Linked DNA regions of Homo sapiens. The protein of the gene in region 2 interacts with the protein of the main gene of each other region in a pairwise test. Each region holds a gene or a part of one and is shown on either strand. Other genes may lie near its edges.

Region 1 (8,612 bases), on a different chromosome or scaffold from region 2:
TGACTGCAAAATAATTAATGTGCTTTACTATAGGATGCTGTTCAGAACTCCCAGGGCTATTGCGAAATCCACAGCATATGGCCCGAGTTTCATATAAGGAAGTGAGGACCTGCATTCACAACAACACTGTGGTCAAGAAACTCTCACTGCTCCCATTTTACAGATGGGGGGACTAAAGCTTACTGAGGCTGGGTCACACGGTTAGCAAGTCTAAGAGCTACTGGGCTTTCCTAATGCAAAGCCAGTGCACCTGCCCCTCTCTCCTGCAATGCCTCCCCGTGATGCTACAAGAAAGAAGCTTGCCCTCGGCAACACATGCATGCGAAAGAGTTCTATCCTCATTCAACTATTTTTTATTGATAGGAGACTGCTATGATTTCAGCTGTGAGAAGTTTCACAAACAGAACTGAAAGAAAATGAGGAACAGAAAAAAGCAGAAACGAGTAGAGATAAAAATAAAACAAGTGCTGGTAGAAGAGAGCAAGGAGCTGATGAGGAAACAATGCAGGTGGGAACAAGGAAGGCTCAGACCCAGTTGAACTGGTAACACATACGTACTTTCTTTGAACTTGAAAGCAACTGAAGAATAAAGTATCTGAACTTTAATATCCTTCTTACGAAGTAGGAAGGGGCAGAGATGCATCCACAGTGAAGACACAATAATAAAATGATACCAATAACCATTTCCTGAGTGTCTTTTATGTCCCAGGCACTGGACTGAAACCCATTTCATCTTTTTCATCATGGCTCAGTAGGTATTATTATCCCCATTACAAATGAGGAGACTGAGGCCCAAGGAAGTTAAAGTAACATGCCCAAGGTCAAACAACTTCAAAACGGGTCCAAAAGAAGAACAGTTCTGATTCTGAAGGCAATATTCTTTTTGCTAAACCACCCTGCTTGTCCTGTATATTTATATATCTATCAAGGAATCCGTAAAACTACTGAATTGGTGTTAACATTGGGGTAACAAATAAAAAAGGAAATCCTATAATGAATATGGGGACTTCTATGTTACCACCACGCCTTTCCTATTGGGGCATGAGACTCTCCCAAGCCATGAGGCACCTATGAAGCAAAATACTTTTGCTGATGATCCAGATGGTATTACCAAAATGGATAGGGAGTTTTACTTCTAAGATGACACATATTTCTATGGCTTTTCCCCTAAAACAATAATTAATATTCAATAAATTATGATCATTACATTTTCACAGACACCAGAAGCTTTATACATACAAAAATATTTATGGGTTAAAACGTCTCTAACCTGTCTGAGTTTGCTTCAGTTGCAATTTTAAATCGGCAACCTGAGTAGTTAAACTCTTTACAGAAGCTTTGTAACCTAGAATCTGGGCCTTCAGCTGTGCAGAATGCTCAATCTGAAAAGATTCAGAATAGGAAAAGAAATCAATGTAAAACAAATCACAGCTTGCTTCAAAAGGAAAAGTTCTCTTATCATGTTTGTACTCTTTTTGTTCTGCCAATTCCAAGAAGCTTTATGACAGTAAACAACAGGGTCCCTATTAAAAAAAAACACAAGCAGAACACACAAACAAGTTCTTCACCATCTTTTTCAGTCATATCAAAGAACTCTAGGGCATGCAGGCAGAAATCAGAAGACAGTGAATGTTTGTAATACTTATCAGGGTGAGAATCGAGAGATAACAGTGGGCACCATCAGGCACTCAGAAAATTTTATGTTTAGGTGAGTTTGCTTTCTTCTCCATTTTATTACTATTACGAATATAAAGTCACGTTATCACTGCAGAATTTTCTCAGATGAGAAAGGATACCTTTAGCATATTTGGGGGAGTAATGTTTGATGTTAAAATAAATCTGATTTACACTAGTGTGACTTGTGCCAAGTTTACGTAACTATGAAGTGTACTGGTATCACACTAGAACTGAAGAAGAGCAATACTCACTTCGTCTTGCAGTTGTTTGTGCAGAGCTTGCCTGCAGCTTTCGAACTCCTCATGCTCAACCACTATAGCCTTTTCGGCTTTCCGTAGTTCTTTCTGAAAGACTGCAAGTTCAGGAGCCGGCTGAGCTAGGCCTAAGAAGGTAAAAAAAAAAAAAAAATCCTAGTCATTACCAACCTTAAGTTTTCTTATTTAACTTAACAAAAACAGTTAAAGGGGTTTTAAAGTGTTCTTTGCTTTGTACTGACTCAATAAATATGATAATAATTCTATTAAATGAGCTCAGAGCAATCCTGACTCTCAAATTTCACAACAAAAGAATTTAGTGCATGTTAATGCAAACTTTATTACCCTTGGAGTCCTACTCCAAGTAAAAGAACTCTTTCAAATTCTCAAATTAACCTGAAAGCCTGTTTCTCTCCTCTACTGTGCACAGAAGGAGCTCTCTATCTGGTCTACCTGTTGATGACAGCCCTGGGATCCAATATGATCTGGGCATCTGACAGCAGCAGTTGGGATCCAGGCAGAAGGCAGATGGCTCTCACGGTCAAGGTCATCTAAGAACCCTTTAATAAAGGTTGACTTATTCAGGGTATGCACAAAGGATGGTGGAGTTCCCTGGGTGGGCTAGTAACAGGGCCATACTGTTAGCGCTCCTTGGGCCTGGGGAATCAGAGGAGGGAGAAATTCTCAGCACTAGAGACAGGGTGGTGGTGCAGAGCACTTGGAAGAGGTAATCGCAGGCACTATGGCCTCACTTGGCCATGAGGCACAGTGGCCAGCCTAGGGCCACTGTATGTAGAGGCTGGTGTCCCCACTGGCCAAACCCAATCAGCAGTCAGAGGGCAAGGGAAGCTTTGATACCACCTATAGGCAGGTTTGCAGAGTTTAATCCAAGAATCTTAATTTTATAAATCTTCCCAATGTAAGCCCCCTACCTTATACAAGTACAAAGCATAGTTTTATAATACTGACCTAATGCGAATTACTAAAACACGCAAGTCAGAAGAAAAGAAAAATACATACGGTTTAGGAGACGCAGGTTTTCATTTCTACTCTCTTCCAGTTGTTGTTTAAGTAATTTATTTTGTGCCAGAAGCTCCAGTTTCTCTTCTTTTAGTAGTGAATAATCACTCATCTCTTTAACCTTTTCATTCAGCATATGGTTTTGTTTTGTTATTGCCAAAGACTGGGCTTTGACAGACTCTAATTCAAGCTAAAATTCAAAAAGGAAAATTTACATTTGAATAATGACTTTACAGTACTGCAAAAGTAAAAGCTGGCAGGCTCCTTTAAGCATGGTGTCACAATTTAATTAAGGTCACTAGACAGAAGTCTGATTCTCTACAATAAGACTCTAACTACAATAACGAAAATTATCTTCCGCCCTACAGTTGGGGCAGAACTTTTATAGGCCGCATCCCATGAAGCAAGTCCTTCTAAGATTATCATCCCATTTTCCAGAGGCAACCAAGAACCCAACAATAATCACACATCATAGCAATATATATTTTTTAAATATGAAAGGTAAGATAAAAATGGCTGAGCATGGTGGCTCACGCCCGTAATCGCAGCACTTTGGGAGGCTGAGGCAAGAGGATTGCTTGAGCTCAGGAGTTCGAGACCACCCTGGGCAACATGGTGAAACCCCATCTCTACTAAAAATACAACAATTAGCTGGGTGTGGTGGCACATGGCTGAAATCCCAGCTACTTGGGAGCTGAGACATGAGAATCACTTGAACCCGGGAGGTGGAGGTTGGTTGCAGTGAGCCAAGATCACACCACTGCACTCCAGCCTGGGCGAAAGAACAAGACTCTGTCTCAAAAAAAAAAAAAAAAAAAAAAGGGAAAGAAAGGAAAAAAGATTCTGTAAAATGTTGTGAAGTGCTTCCCTTTTCTTAGTATATCTCATATTTGAGTAAAAAGCCTACAAAGTTCTCACATAAGTCACAGTTGCTAAAATAAATTTCATATACAAAATATGTTGTAAGTACCTAAAGTTCCAGCTTCATCCTTCAGACAGCAAGCACACGAATGAACAGAAAAGTAAAGAAGCAATGATATGTGAAAAATGTACCTCATTTTGTTTTAATCTGTAAGATAACAATGTAATGACAGGAATTTTGTTTACCTGCTGCTGATGGAAGGAGATAACAGGCTGATGTAGAAACTAATAGTAATGGCCACCTGCTATGAACTAGGCACATAAGTTAGCTTACTGAATTCCCTCAACAACCCTATAATGTGGAAAACATCCTAGTTTACAGCTCAGGAACCTGCAGTCACAGAACTTACCTAGCGACACACAAGCAGTTAGAGACACAGACAGGATGTGGGCAGGACTCCAGGACCCAAAGCTCTATCTACACTTTCCTATGTGACACTGACTGAAATTAAGAACTATTGAATTAACTTCAGCTAACACCTTCTTAGCCATATAAATGGCAGTCCAAACATCTCAACAGGATGACTTAGGATAAATTATGTATGACTAAAATTTCATATATTGCTTAAAATCTATTTCAAAAACCAACATGCTTAACAATTACCTCAAGTTCTTTCACACGATTTACAGATTGATTGAGTTCCTCCTTTTTTGAATTAATAGCTATGAGCTCCTCTTGCAAATGAACAGCTTTTTCTGAAAAAAGAGCCCACCAATTAAACACCATAATGTTTTCCTAGTGAATACAAAAGCCATTTAATATTTATGGCCAGTATGTCAGACCTAATGACCACTATTTCACAATCCAAATAGCAGATGTAGCGGGCAAGTAAGAAATAAACCCTGTTACCCAACAGGTGATGTGAAGCTGTAACTGTCATATATGTGGTGAAATTCCACTTGCTATACATGCTAACCAGAGTTATACCATGTGCTCAAAGCACAGGGCCCTAATACCCACAGCTCTTAACTTCCTTGAAGACAAAGATCTGTCTGTTACTATATTGTAGTTACTATTTTGTAGTTTTCACTTCATCTAACACAAGTCTATGTAGATATATCATCAAACCATAATTTGTTACATACGTAATGGTATTAATGCATAAAAGAAGTATTAGTCTCCACAAGATAGTAAAAGGGGCTGGGCACAGTGGCTCACGCCTGTAATCCCAGCACTTTGGGAGGCCAAGTCAGGCGGACCACCTGAGGTCACGAGTTCGAGACCAGCCTGGCCAACATGGTGAAACTCTCTCTCTACAAAAATTAGCCAGGCATGGTGGCGCACACCTGTAGTCCCAGCTACTTGGGAGGCTGAGGCACAAGAATCACTTGAACCCAGGAGGCAGAGGTTGCAGTGAGCTGAGATTGTGCCACTGTACTCCAGCCTGGGCAACAGAGCAAGACTCCGTCTCTTAAAAAAAAAAAAAAAAAAAGACAGTAGCCACACATTGGGTATCTGGTCAACATCAACTATCTAACCCTGGTTTCCTCCCAGGAATCTACTTGAAATTTCCACCAAAACTTCAACTTCTTGTTACAGCAATTTCCTAGAAATACATTGAAATGGGTCGGGCGTGGTGGCTCACGCCTGTAATCCCAGCACTTTGGGAGGCCGAGGCGGGCGGATCACGAGGTCAGGAGATCGAGATCATCCTGGCTAACACGCTGAGACCCCGCCTCTACTAAAAATACAAAAAATTAGCCGGGCGTGTTGGTGGGTGCCTGTAGTCCCAGCTACTGGGGAGGCTGAGGTGGAAGAATGGCGTGAACCTGGGAGGTGGAGCTTGTAGTGAGCCGAGATCGCACCACTGCACTCCAGCCTAGGTGACAGAGCGAGACTCCGTCTCAAAAAAAAAAAAAAATACACTGAAATGTAAAACATCTGAAGATTGAAAAATTATTCAACTTCCATAGTCTCAGGCCAATGTACACAAGAGTTCAGAAGGTTATACATCAAGTAAAAATATTATAAAGCATAAAAATATATTAGAAGCAAAAGAAATAAGAAACTAGGTCACAGAGGACAGAGAAGTTAAAAGTTTTCCGTAAGTGAAAAATAAAGTCTCTCATGGTTAGGAGTAATACGTACTTGACAGCAATAAGTTGCTGCTACGTTCCTGACAATTGCAGATTTATCAAAATATATGAAATAAAGTTGGATAAAATATCCATGATAAATCACTGGCCTTTGTGAATATACAAACTATTAAACATGAAGGTTCCTCAAAAGGCAGTGAAGACCATGATTTTTAATTTATAAAATTAAAATTACAAAAAATGTGTAATTTTGTATGAACAATGAAGTGTAAGCTGTATTTTTTAGAATATAGAAAAGACCCAACTTGGGAAGCTAATAACCTACAGCAGAACTGAAAAATACAGCTTATTTTCCCCCCAAACATCACCTTTATTCTTCCTTTCATCTTCAATCAGTCGATTAGTTCTAATGATGTAGTCATCCTTCAGTTCAAGTTGATACCTGAGAATCAGAATGACTAAATATGAGCTCCTCAGGCATTTTTCTGGAAAGACTGTTATCAGTGCAGGAGCTTATCTATGGCACAGGAGCACCTGAGGGTGCTAAACATGACAACTTGTAAACTTCAAAGTCCTCAATACTAAAGCCAGGGATATAACCCCTGAACATAAAATGCCCAGTAAAACCCTTCCTTGATCCTATAAACTGGGTCCCAAAACTCAATCACACAAAATGAAGCGTCGTGTTATCATAAGGTTACTTACTGAAAGCAATCACTTTTCAGTTGGTCTCAACTGACACAAAGAGCAAAGGGGTAAATTAAATTTACACAGCACACAACAGACTCAATCCCAAATGATAATCAGACGGTCACTTCCAATCCACCTGTACCATCTGCCCACCCCCAACCAAGGTAAGAACTTTTGTGCTCAGGGACTAAGCACAGTCCTGAGAGCCAACTGCCAAGAGCATTATATCCGGATTAGCAATACCAAAAGGCACATTTTCACAGTTTCACTTCCCTTTCCCAGCTGTTACCAGCTGCCCTTTTGGTTCCAAAAGGAAATAGAAGCACTCCTGTGGCGAAGAGCCTCCAAACTCCAACACCTGCCAAAGTCATATGAGGATTCCCAAAGCCAGGCAGACACCATGCAGCCTGTGGAAGCTGTCACAATGACACCAAATAGTTCACTAGCTCCATAACTATGTAAAATTAACACACATACTTTAATTCATTTATTCCTAAAAATTCAGCAACTACAGACACTTCCATTTTAGCTATTTTAGTATAGAAACTGACATAGAAGATGTGGGTAAAATACATCATTTCAAAATCAATAGATAAAAAAGCTGCCATATTTTTTAAAAATAGGATTTGTTTAAAGGATTACCTCAAGAAACCTTTGCAATATTATGTAATGGAATATCGATGACAAATTATGAGAAAGGCAATAAAAGAGGCCAAATAAGAAATGCCCAGAGCACCTGAGTTGAATCATTTCCTCGTGACACATTTACAACAAATATTAACTGAGCACTTTTTATGTGCCAGATGCTTTCCCACACACTGAAGAGAAATGTTACCACATGGGCATAATGTCGTAGCACTGAGATATTATTCACTGATACACAAAACTCAGACTACAGAAAAGCCAAAGTTACCATAGTTGTCCATATTTTCCTTTCCCTATATCACTTTTTGCCTCACATAGTTAATTTTAGCTCTTTTGATTCTGGCTTTGCTGAATCTTGAAGGAATACAAGGCACATGTTCACTGACAAATACTATGACCACTAGTATAATTTATATATTGTCAGATAACCCCATCCTTCTGACTGTATGAGTGAGGTAGAGGAAAAGATAACTAAAAGTGGTTATAATTCCAATTTTACAGCTTATCAACTATGCAAGCTAAGCAAGTCACAAGGTGTCCTGAAAATTAAAGCAAATCACAGCCCACAATAAACGTTAGAGAAGCCATAAGAAGCGCAGAGGATGTGCTTCTCTGTATTTTTTTATTGTTGTTAATTTTTGAGATGGATTGTCACTGTCACGCAGGCTAGTAGAGTGCAGTAGCACAACTTCAGTTCACTGCAACGTCTGCCTCCCGGGTTCAAGTGATTCTCCTGCCTCAGCCTCCCCAGTAGCTGGGATTACAAGTGCCCACCACCACACCCAGCTAATTTTTGTATTTTTAGTAGAGATGGGGTTTCACCATGTTGGCTAGGCTGGTCTTGCACTCCTGACCTCAGGTGATCCGCCCACCTCAGCCTCCCAGAGTGCTGGGATTATAGGCATGAGCCACCACACCCGGCCCTTATCTTTTAAAAACTATCCTAACTCAAATGCAGGAAAGGATTGACTGTATCGATAAAACTATGTTTTTTTTTTTTCAAACACTAAAGTTTGCCTAAGTTACAGACTACTTTGTCAGTTTTTGTTATGTTTCTACCAATTTAATTTAAACATATTAGTTATTTAAAAATGCTAAACAATTACTTTAGAAGTTCATTCTTGAGCTTTCGGTCATAGGTCTCCTCAAAACTCTTTATATTCTGCTCCTGTCTCCTAAGTGCCTCAGTTATGCTTTTATGTTTTTCTTCCTGGAGCTTCTGGTTCCTGAAATTAACAAAAATATAAAAAGTAAATAAACTACCATAGCTGAGCTAACAAATTTAGGAAAAAATCACATGTGTCTAGTTCCACAGACTAAAACTGCTACATGATATCACTACTGGGAAGTAGAAGGAAAGAGCCAGAA
Region 2 (11,890 bases):
TTGTGTTATCAGAGGCTGCTCTCAGCCTGGGGTAGGAGTGTGTCCTCCTGACCCCGATCAGGTTGTCTGCGGGAGCTGGAGTGGGATTTGGAGGAATATTCTTTACCTGGGGCTTTCCCCCTCAGGCCTGGGCCCTGACTGCCCCTCTTTAGGTCCCCTGGGCCCCAAGGGAAGTGGGGCCCTGGGCCTTGAATGCTCTGTGCTGGTGACTTGAGAGGGAGGCTGGCCTCTGTGGTGCTGGGGAGGGGTGGGCTGGCAGGCGTCGGAGCAGAGATAAATAGAAGCGGGAGGGCTTGTCACCAAGAAGGCAGCACCCACTCCTTCCTTGAGGTTCCCGCATCATTTTGCACCCTCTGAGGCCCAGGAGTGCTCTGCCTGCCCCAGTGGCTGCATGCTTGCCTCTCTACTGGTTTGCTCCCGAAAGTCAGGAGAGTGGGTGGGGCTGACATTTCCTAAGCTTCCACCATGTGCCAAAAGTAGGCGAAGCACTTTCACAAATGTCATCTCATTTGATCTTCCTCACAACCCCATGAAGCTGGGGTGATTATCTCTGTTTTACAGACGAGGCCACAGAGGCTCAGACGCAGTGAGACTGGTCTCTATCTCCAGCTGCACACTGCTCACAGGCTTTCCTGGCTCTCTCTCTATAGCTGTCCACAGCCTGGGCCAATTCTCTGTGCTCACCCCAAGACCTGTCTCTTCTAGGAAGCCTTCCCTGACTGCCCCAGCCCACATGGTCTTTCTCCATGAAGTCCCTAAATTCAGAGCACTTATTGGCTGTACCTTGTTTTGATTACTGAAAGCAGTAGCCTTGCAATACCTCTGGGATTTCTTGTGTGGTTAATCACTTCCTAACTACACAAACAGAGGCAAAACACTGAACTTACAGAAACTCTAGATATCATAATATCTAGAGTTAGAGAGCTGTTTTGAGGACTGAGTGAAGTGACATGTACTTGGGGGTGAAAGCCTGTTGCCCAGCCACACTGCTCACTCTGCACATTTGGCTCCCGCGACCCCATTTTTTTTTTTTTTTTTTGTGATACGGAGTCTTGCTCTGTTGTCCAGGCTGGAGTGCAGTGGCGTGGTCTCGGTTCACTGCAACCTCCACCTCTTGGGTTCAAGTGATTCTCCTGCCTCAGCCTCCTGAGTAGCTAGGACTACAGGCGTGCACCACGCCCAGCTAATTTTTGTATTTTTTTTTTTTTTAGTAGAGACGGGGTTTTGCCAGGTTGGCCAGGGTAGTCTCAAACTCCTGACCTCAGGTGATCTGCCTGCCTCGGCTTCCCAAAGTGTTTGGATTACAGGTGTGAGCCACTGCACCCATCCATGGCCCTTTTCTTGTCCTCCCCACGGGGCTTTGTCTGATGGATTTCAAGCATCAGCAAAGGAAATACTGGGTGTCACTGTCATCTGGACCAACCTGATTCTGGAGGAGCCAGAAGTCTCATGGTGATTGATCTTCGTCTGCGTGGGGTGTATGGTTGTTAATCTTTCTCTCTGGCAGTTAGGGCACACACGAATTCCTAGCATCCCCACTCCAGCGAAACACTTGTGCACAGATTACAAACACCAATATGATTTTATTCAAACACAGGCAAGAACAATGACCTTCAGAGCTGGGTAAAAATAATAAGTTAAAAGCATGGTTAGAATTTTAGACAATCAGATAAAAAGTTTGAAGGAAGTGATTTCCCCTTCCTCTCCTAATTGATTAATTCAACACAGCATAAAAATAATTTGTATCTATAAAATATCCTTGTTCCCACACAAATGAACTGGAGGTGGCCCTAGGATTTCCTTGACTATGCACAATGCACACAATCTACATGTCCCTCCTCCCCAACTTTTAAGGCAAAAATGGTCCTGCATCTTCAGGCAGAGGGTGGGCTCATGCCAGCAGTCAGCTGTGTCAAGGACACTGGGGGGCGTTTCTCCACCGAAAGATGCCTGCTTGGGTCCCACTTGGGCGCGGATTCCATTTTATTTCTAGCCTTTGCCTCACCACAGAAAAAAGGAGCTGAAATTCTGGCAAGTGGACACTGGACTGGTTTGGGGCACTCCTCCAGTCTGGGCTGACCGGGTCTCTTGAGGCATCCGTGGCCTAGGCAAGTGGTGGTTTCAGGACTGTGACAGCCCTGAAGGAGCCAGACCTGGTGCCTCCTGCAAGCTGGACAAAGCTGACGGAGGGTGGGCAGGTGTCTCCTTCCCCCCAGCCCCTCAGGCTGCGTCAGTCTTTCTGGGAGTACTGAGAAGAAAATATCCGTGCAATCCTGAGAGTTTCTTCCTCAGGCAGGTTGAGGGGGAGCGAGTTAGGTCTGGGGCGACAAGGCCTTTGGGAGAGAGCTCCCCTGGTGGCTTCGCTCTTGTCCTGGAGAGGAAGAAGTCAGCTAGGTTACCACTGAGGATATGGCACCACCAATGGATGACGCTGGTTTCTCTCATCTTTTGGTCCTTTGGTTAATATTTATGTAGAGCTGCCTGGTTTACAAAGCGCTTTACGTACCTTATCTTGCTTGACCCTTACCTCAACCCCATATGGGGGGTATATCATTCTCCCCATGTCGTGGATAAGGAAACTACATTCAGGTGGAATAAACTCAAGGTCCCACAGCTCTGAGTAGCAGAGCTGGGACGTGAACCCCAGCCCTGACTCTTTCTGTGCCTCTGGAGAAGGAGGCAGCGTCACCTCCAGGATAGGTTTGAATCCTCATCCCTTCTCCTGTTGCATGGCTTTAGACAAGTCATTTGTCCTCTGGGTTTAGTCCCATGTGTGATGCTGGGAACATATCCAACTCTCAGGGAGATGGCGGTGAATAATACACTCTCTGTTTGGCCCTTTGGAGCTCCTGGAGTTGCCAGGTGACATAAAGCACCTACCTACTGCTTGGCTACCAAACTTTGATCTCTCTGACTCTGGCTGACAGGGCATCACTAATTCCGCCTTTAAGGTACTTAAACCTGTGGGCTATGGTATCATGGTCCTCTGGACTCCTCTAACTCATTTTTCTTTCTTTTTTCTTACTCCATGTCAGGCTCCTGTGCTGAAGGAGCTCAAAGCTATACAGGAAAGCCATCCCAGACAGCTGGCTGAGAGCAAGGCCCTGGGGAAGAAGTGGGGGCCTGATAGGGGAGGGGGCAGTTCTGAAAGGAGATGGGAGCAGCCTCCACAGGCAAACCTGGCTGACTTCATGGCATGCAGCTTGCTCTTCCCTGTCATCAAGTCCCATGAGCTGAGGCTGTCATAAGCTGAAGGACTATTGAGAGCACACTGTACCACTTCCTGGGCACTGAGAAGAAGCTTGGTGGAGACCCTAGAGACTGGGACCACCTACCCCCTGCAGTTCTGCTCATGAGAAACTGAGGCCCAGCGAGAGTTGCGCCCAGCGAGAGTTGCGCCCAGCGAGAGTTGCTTCTGGCATCAGTAACATTCAGTTATTCTTTCTTTCATGTCTTCAATCTTTTTTAATACCTACTTGAGAGGGGCGCAGAAATAAACAGAACTCCGTTTTAGGCTTTCTCAGCTCAGAGTTAAGCCCTGGAGGCAGAGAGATCTGCCTAAAGAATTAGAATTGCCAGAATGAGATAAGGGGAGTGGAGTCAGGCATCCCTGATCTACTGCCTGGATGTCAGTTTCCCACCCATGAAATAGAAGTGTGGATGGGAAACCTTGAGGGTCCCTGCCAGTCTAGAATTCTAAGTGCCAAGGGAATGTCTACAATCTGGGAAGCTCTCAGTGCTATGAGCCCACAGGCAGCCTTTCCTTATAACCAAGAGCAAAGTGATACTAGGGCTGGGCTGCACAGCAGAGACTAGAAGATCTATCTCCCTGCCTTCTAGGCAGGTCTAGGCTAGAAGGGAAGAAGGAAACCCACTTTTTGCTGGTGTTTGCAGTTCTTCCTTCCAAAATACAGGAAGCACCTGCACTGCATGATGCCTCAGACCAGGGGAGGCCAGTGGCCAGCCTCTGCCTGTTGCTCTCCCACTTCCACACTGGGTGCTCCTGCAGGGCACGGCCTGGGTCTGAGGCTTGGGATCCCAGCGAGGCCAGTTCCAAGACAGGAGCCTGGGAGCTGCTAGACCAGTGTGGGTGGGACCAGGCCAGGGTAACCACAGGTTTAAATTGGGTGGGGAGGAGACTCTTTGTAGTAAGCTTCTCATTCATTCATTCTAGAACCAGTGGTTGTTGTCCTACCATATGCCAGGTCTTTAGTTAAGTTAAACTCTCTCAGGCTCTATGTAGCACTTTAAGCTTGTGTATATCTTTCTCTACTCCCAAGATCCAAGATGGCTGTTTCCTGAGCTATTTGGGATTTAGGATGACACAAGTCCCATTCCTGACCCCCAGCTGTACTGCAGGTAGATTTTCTGGGTCATCAGTTGTATCTTACCTTCCATTTCTTTCTCTGCTACTCTGAAGGGGAAGTAGGGAGATGTTTGTTTTATGAGCCAGATGGGAAAACAGGCCTTAGAGCATAGTATTCTATCTCAAATCCTAAAACCAGGCATTTGTTTCCCCATTTTCTAGAAGAGATGTCTTCTCTGTTTTAGAGAGACTTAGATGAGTCTTGTTCTCCATGGCTGGAAGGGCCAACTACCTCAGTTCATGAAATGACCATAAAAAGACCTCTGTTGGGCTGGGTAGCTCACGTCTGTAACCCCAGCACTTTGGGAGGCCAAGGCAGGGGGATCGCATGAGTCTAGGAGTTTGTGACCAGCTTGGTCAACATAGGGAAACCCTGTCTCAAAAAAAAAAAAAAAGGAAAAAAAAAATTAGCAGGGTGTAGTGGTGCACACCTGTGGTCCCAGCTACTCAGGAGGCTGTGGTGGGAGGATCGCTTGAGCCCAAGAATTCAAGGCTGCAGTAAGCCATGATCATGCTACTGCACTCCAACCTGGGTGACAGAGGAAGACCCTGTCTCAAAACAAAACACCTCTGTTGGTGACTCATCAAACTTTTCAGGAGCCTAAGATCTAATCAACTTGATCAACTCTTATGGACAACAGGCAGACGTGGTTCCTGTTGTCATAGGGCTGCTCAGCTAGAGAGAAGACAGACAATGAGCTACCCAACAATCACAGAGATGAAGCTTAGAGCTTGTGAGCACTGAGAAAATAGCAATTAGTAACAGCTGAGAAAGTCTGGGGCGGCTTCACAGGAGGTGGGCTCCAAGATGGGCAAGGTCTCAACAGAAGCTGGCTGTCAGGTGAGGTCTTTCATTAGAGGGAACAGCATGAGCACAGACCTACACCTACTGGCTGGGCCATATCTGCCCTGGAGCTGAATCGTGTGTGGCACCAACCTTCCAGCACTGATACCCTAACCCAATGACCTAGGGGGCCTTATCTGCAAGGCCCAGGCCCAGGAATCAGAACAAGGACAAGGACAGGGCTTGGCTCTGTGTACAGGGCAGGGGCGGGGTGTGGAAGGACAGAGAACTCACACTCAGCAGCATTTTGCTTTTGTTGACCTCAATAGGGTTTAGAAACCATCTTGACTAGTAGTGAAGATTCTTCCTTCATCAGGACTGCTACCCTAACACACAACCCTGGTGGGGTTGGCCAGAGGCGAAATTGGCCAGAGCAGGGATACCCTCAAATGTATCATCCATTCCTCTGAAATACTCCTACACTTCTGGCTGTAGACCTGAGGGCACAAGAAAGTTGTCAGCAGAACATGGGCTTTGTGGGAGGCATCAACCTTCCTGGGGAGGCAGGAGGAACACACATGGAAGCAGGATCGTCGTAGCTGGAGGGGCTGCAGGTGCCTTGGAGTCTAGACAGCGGGTGTCATCCATGGGGTGAAGTCCCTGGAGCGGGAACTTAAACATGAAGGTGGAATGTGAACAGACAATGAAGAGAGAGGGTATGCCACGTGGAGGTGCAGGTTTTGTGAGGAAGGAATTTTCTTTGCTAGGAAAGTGGTGGGGGTGGATAGGCTGAGCTGCAGGTATGGAGAACAGCCAAGACAAACCTATTACTAGAAGAGGGGTTGATGCTGGTTGAGGAAGTTCCAGAATGTCTGGGGGGAATTTGATCTTATTCTTCTTGGACTTCAGCGAGCTGATCTGTAAGGGCCTTCCCAGGGAACAGGGATGGGGTATTTGACGACTGTACTAGGCTGAAGGACAGAACTGGCTTTCCTGTGGACCGGGTGTCAAGCACGGCAGTAGGCCAGGGGCTTTCAGGCTGCCCCATTAAATCCTACCTCATCCATACATGGGACCTGTTCCTTTCTGAGTACCTGGACACCCAGGTCATGAACATGATAGGCCTCTCTGATAATAGATGTGTCTTAAAAGAGCCTTCAATGCTAAAGATCAGACTTTGCTGGGGAGAAAATGGAGCACGTGGAAGGTGTAAGGAGTGGTTTGGAAAGAAAATGTGGGGCTTCCTGAGGCTCTTCAAATTGAGTGGCTAACCCTGCATAAGGAGCTGGTTCTAGTCCTGGCTCTACCACTTCTTAGCCAAGCGGTGTTGGGCAACCCACCTTCTCTTTGGGCCTTGGTTTGTGCATCTGAATGGGATCAGGATGAGCAGATAATGCAAGAGGAGGCACTCTATAAACCACGGGCTTATCCCGGCCCTTGGCTCCTTCTCTGGTCTGCTCCCTGTGATGCAGACTCTTCTCCAAAAGCTCTCTCAGGAGGGCCTGGCCCTCTTCTTTGGCCTGGAACATGATCTGATCCCAGCCACTGTGTTCTAGGTTCTCTTCACTCCAGCCCCCAGATGGATTCCTCGAACAGGCCACATGCTCCCAGGGGTTGGTGGGTACAGGTGCCCCCACTTACCCCTGCTTCCAAGTATCTGAGGGACTTTCTCAGAGGACAGGCAATGGAGTGCAGTGGAAGGGACACTGGTCTGTGGCCCAACCTAACTGTCTCACTCACTCAAGACCAAGATGCTTTCTCACTCTGGGTCTCTCTGGGTCTTAGCTTCACTGTCAAGTGGATCTAAGAACTTCTGTTTGGTCTTCTTATCCAGGTCTATGCTGGGTTCAAATAAAATTCAGATATGGCCGAGGTTCTGACCAGGTATAATATCTTACAAAACACAGAGGCTAAGATGGAGCTAGAGCCAATACCAGCTGCAGACCCAAGAGCAAAATGAAGCCTTGCTGTTCTCAGACCCCATCCCTGGCAAAGGGTCAGGCCCCAAAAGTCCTGAGTAGAGCTGGGGTACAGGATCTCCTGTACTGAGGTAAGCAGTGCTAGACCAGGCAAGTTCTCCCCGCCCCACTGTCTTCCCCCCTTCTTTGGTAACAGTGAGCCTCTGGTCTGGGATGAGGGCTAAAGTTCTGTTCTTTTCCACAGTAGCCCCTTTAAGTGACATAAACATTGACTCAGGAGCTGAAAACTGAAAGTAAACAGCCGCCTGGGTCTGGCTGGCTAGGTGGACCTGCCAATGGATTGCTGCATCAGAGGCCGAGTGAGGGCTCAATATAGCTGCCTGCCTTGCTCAACTTTCACCCCTTTGGCTGGCTGCCTTTCCCTGGGGTGGCTCTCAGAGTCTGGCCTGGACTAGAACTTCCTTGATACTACAGAGAGCAGCAAACTCAGCAGCCACAAGTAGGAGCAGAGGGGAAGTGAGGACAAGGCACTTAGACTAGAGGCCCAGCCCTGAGAGGCAAATCCCAAATCTGACCTGCTCAGCCCGGCTGCCGCATGGCTCTGGTCTCATGCTCTGAGCTCACCCTCCATGCCTAAATTAGAGGTCTGGTCATGTGGTTCTTATTACCGATATGCTCCCTCCGTGCCACACCCCACCTGATGCCACCCTCTCCTTACTCCAAGAAGCCTTCCCGGACAGGCCCATTCTACAGGGCCTACGTCACTCCCTCACCCTGGGCCTTAGTCTATGCTACGAAGGGGCCTGACTAGGGCAAGACTCCTCAACCCTTTTTTTTGTTTGTTTTTTTAAACAGGGCCTGGTTCAAAAGATGATCCTCAATCTTCTGAACCCAAGCTCTGCCAGAGAGAGGGCTCCAAAGTCCAGGTTTTGAGAGGGAAGGGTTAAAAGTTATACTCTTACAAGAAGAGCTCCTGGCTCCTCCTGGACTCTGGCCTCAGAGTGGCTCAGGCAACCTGAGACTAGCACCTGCCCAGCAGACCTATGAGCCCCTTCCTAAAAAGTGTCTGCCAACTTGCAGTCTGGGCCAGGGTGGCGCCAGCCAATTTTGGCTGTTTCTCCTGACCTCTATACACCCGTGGCCAAGTTGCTTATCTTCTAAAAGCTCTGTATGGCCTTTATCAGAGATACTTTGACCTTTAGGTCTCTCTTAGGCTCTGCAGAAAGCTAGGGACTTGGTGGTTTAATGAAATGAGGCAATAGGTCAGGACCTCTTGCCCCAAGAGGGGCAGCTCAGCCGTCAGGCCTGGACCACAGGCTGAGAAGAAACCCAGGATCAGTAAGTTCCCTCAGGCCCCCTACTGATCTGATCTGGTGGCTTTGTGGAGAGCTGGGATTCTCTACCAGGACTATTTATCTTTCAGCTGCTTCTGGTTTGTGGAAAGGAAACCAAAGGATAGATTTTTTTTTTTCAGACACAGTTTCACTCTGTCGCCCAGGCTGAAGTGCAGTGGCACCATCTTGACTCACTGCAACCTCTGCCTCCCAGGTTCAAGTGATTCTCATGCCTCAGCCTCCCAAGTAGCTGGGATTAGAGGTGCCAGGATAGAAAAATTCTATCCCTTGGTTTAGACATGTTGCTGAGGACCTCAGAAAGTCATAAGCAGAGACAGGACAAAAAAATCAGGCTTGCTGGCACCTCGATCCTTAGTGATGTCTGAAGTGCTGTGGTCTGGCTGAGTACAAGTGAGAACATCGGGTGGGAGTGGGTGGAAAACTCAAGGTTTTAAGGGTACCCTCATGCCTGGCCTTGTCTCATACTTTCTGCCTCCTACACTCACTCCTTATGAATAACAGTGTCTGGCCCGATGCCTGTGGTTAATCCAGGGGCCCATTCATGATGTGGGCAGAGCGTGGGCTTAACACAGGAAGGCACAGAGCAAGACAAGGCTCACCTCATGGTAAAGAAGTGCCATGTGGACAGGGCAGGGAGGCCAAGGCTCAGAAGACAGGCTGCTTCTTGTCCTTTGCTTCTAATTCCTATCTTGTTTCAGTCCAGGCCCATCTCTTCCCATTTCTGACCATGTCTCTAGCACACAGTGCTTGTACCTTCTGCTGTCCAACTTCTGTTGATTCTAAGGTTTCTTCTTTTCAAATCCACAGCATGAAAAGCCTTTCCTTTATCTTTGTTGAATTCAACTTAAGCCACCCCACATGGCTCTGTCTTTCTTTTCCTATACTCATTCCCTTTGCTTTACTTCAGTGCTAATATAGGCAAATGTCATTTGAGGAAATGAGTGGTTTGGAGTCCAGTGCGTTTCCAAGAACTGCGAGCTCCCTAAAGGCAGGGTCCACAGCATGAGGGTCCTAGCTCTTTCAGCATGACAGGCAGTTGGCAGGAGTTGGAGGAACTTAGATATAAGGCTGGCTCCCCAGGGAACTGTGAGTTCCCCGAGGGAAGCTCCTGTCTTCTGCACCTAGCTCAGGACTGTGGCTTTGCACATTTGTTAAAAGATGCAAATTTCAAGTCTGAGGTCAAAACTATCTTCCTACTTTCTGGCCTGCCTATCCTCAGGCCCAGCTCTAGTTCTCCTATTCAATGACGGGAAGTTATTGGAAGGTTCTGAGCAGAGAAGTCACATGATTGAGTTGATGACTGATTTAACGTCTTAAAAAGTTAACAGGATGCTGTATGGGGAATGGGTTGTGAGGAGCAAGGGAAGCAGCAGAAAGGCAAGTTAGGAGGTTACTGCAATAATCTAGGCCAGAAATAATGATGGTTGAGACCAGGGTGGTGAGAAGCACATTTCTGTATATTTTAAAGATAGAGCTGCCAGAATTTCCTGTTTAATTGAAAACTGGCATCAGGGAGGATTCCAAGAGTTTTGGTCTGAACAACTCAACTAGAGTCCCAGCTACTCAGGAGGCTGAGGCAGGAGATCACTTGAGCCCAGGAGTTTGCAGTGAGCCGAGATCATGCCACTGCACTCCAGTCTGGGCAACAGAGGGAGACCCTGTCTCAAAAAACAAACAAACAAACAAACAAACAAAAAACACCACCCCCCTCCAGAGTTCAGCTGTACCCTTTAATCGAAATTGAGAAGACTGAAGGGGAAATGGATTTGGGAATAAAATCTGGAGCTCAATTTTGGACATGTTAAATTTGAGACATCTATTAGATATTCAAGTGAAGATGCTGGGTAGGCAGTTGTAGAGTTACAGTTGTAGAGTTAGGTCTGGGCCAAGTTAACCATCGGGAGTCTTCAGCATATAGAAGAAGAAGTAGGGGAAATGAGGGAGACCCAGCAAACAAGGCAGAGCGGGAGCAGCCAGTGAGGGAGGAGAACCAAGAAGAAGTGATGCCTTAGAAATAAGTGAAGAAAGTGTTCAAAGGAGAGAGATCAACTGTGTCACATGCAATCAGGCACTGAGATTTGATAATTGACTTAGGAATATGGAAGTTTTTTGGGGTTTTGACAGGCTTAAAGAGTGTTCCCCCTGCCAGTGGTAAAGTGAGGTAAGATCTGATTAGAGTGTGATATTACACTGGCTACAGTGTGGAGAATAAATGGTGGTGGAAAAGTGCAAGTATAAGTGAGACTGGTTAGAAATAGTCGGGGGGGCTGGGCGCAGTGGCTTACGCTTGTAATCACAGCATTTTGGGAAGCTGAGGCGGGCAGATCACTTGAGGTCAGGAGTTCGAGACCAGCCTGGCCAACATGGTGAAACCCCATCTCTACTAAAAATACAAAAATTAGCTGGGCGTGATGGCACGCGCCTATAATCCCAGCTACTGGGGAGGCTGAGGCAGGAGAATTGCTTGCACTCGGGAGGCAGAGGTTGCAGTGAGCTGAGATCGCACCACCACACTCCGACCTGGGCAAGAGTGAGATTCCGTCTCGGGGAAAAAAAAAAGAAATAGTGGGGAGATGATTGGGCTAGACAGGGCAGGGTGAGAAGTAAGTGATTCAAAAGATGCTTAGGTGGCAGAATTAACAGGCCTTGGTGATGTGGATCTTGGCTGTGGGTCATGGGGGATAAAGGAGCAGGGGTGAGAGATACTTGTGCTTCTGGCAGGAGTAACTACATGGATGGTGGCTGAATTTCCTGAGATATGGATGCAGGTGGCAGAGGAAGTATGCAAAGGAAGATGACAAGCTCAAGTTTTGGACAGAGTGAATTGTTTGTGACACATCGGACAAGACGTCTAGGATGCAGGTGGGTCCGTACGTGTCTGCGGCATGAGAGAGAAGACTAGACTGAAGATAAGGATTTGAGAGTCATTCAAAGTCATATTTGAAGTCATCAGAGTGATTGAGATATTCCCAAGAGTGAAAATCTACAGAGCAGAAGACACAGTCTGAGGAAGACAACATGTAAAGCAAATTACTGCCGTTCTCATCGTCAACCTCTCTCCTCCCCTGTATGGAAGTTGATAAAACTAGTTTGTCCATCAGCAGCTGAGCAAGCAGAATCACAAAAAACTTTTAACAAAATCAGGAAGCTGTCCCAGTAAAGAGTTACTTCATCACAAGAGGGAAGAGAAAGCAGGGGCAGCGGAACTTGATTGATTTATAATGAATTTGGAACTGCAAATGGATCGCTGTGCTGCAGTCCTGCTAAACCAGCCATCGTTCTCACCCCTTTTCTTTTTGCAGAGGCGACAGCCAGAAGTTGAAGTAGCATGGGGTGGGAATTATGGGCTGGCCCCTATACTCTACCTGTGTGGCACTCGTTATTCTACAGTACAACCACCCTGTGAGGCCTGATAACCCCATTTGACAGATGAGAAAGCAGACTCAGAAAAGTCCAAAGATCTGAC

The links.
Region 1: the proteins of C2CD3 (region 2) and OFD1 interact in binary tests that used the Homo sapiens proteins (3 or more experiments, as listed by UniProt).

The regions. Positions count from the first base shown.
Region 1 is NC_000023.11:13,751,107-13,759,718, reverse strand, and holds part of OFD1 (centriole and centriolar satellite protein OFD1), read right to left. Parts: intron 8,471-8,612; coding exon 8,351-8,470; intron 7,016-8,350; exon of another isoform or gene 7,002-7,015; coding exon of another isoform or gene 6,889-7,001; intron 6,352-6,888; coding exon 6,278-6,351; intron 4,569-6,277; coding exon 4,477-4,568; intron 3,142-4,476; coding exon 2,952-3,141; intron 2,060-2,951; coding exon 1,929-2,059; intron 1,383-1,928; coding exon 1,271-1,382; intron 1-1,270. UniProt on the Homo sapiens protein: Component of the centrioles controlling mother and daughter centrioles length. Recruits to the centriole IFT88 and centriole distal appendage-specific proteins including CEP164. Involved in the biogenesis of the cilium, a centriole-associated function.
Region 2 is NC_000011.10:74,011,155-74,023,044, forward strand, and holds the end of C2CD3 (C2 domain-containing protein 3), read right to left. Parts: intron 2,372-11,890; coding exon 2,231-2,371; 3' UTR 1,564-2,230; downstream 1-1,563. UniProt on the Homo sapiens protein: Component of the centrioles that acts as a positive regulator of centriole elongation.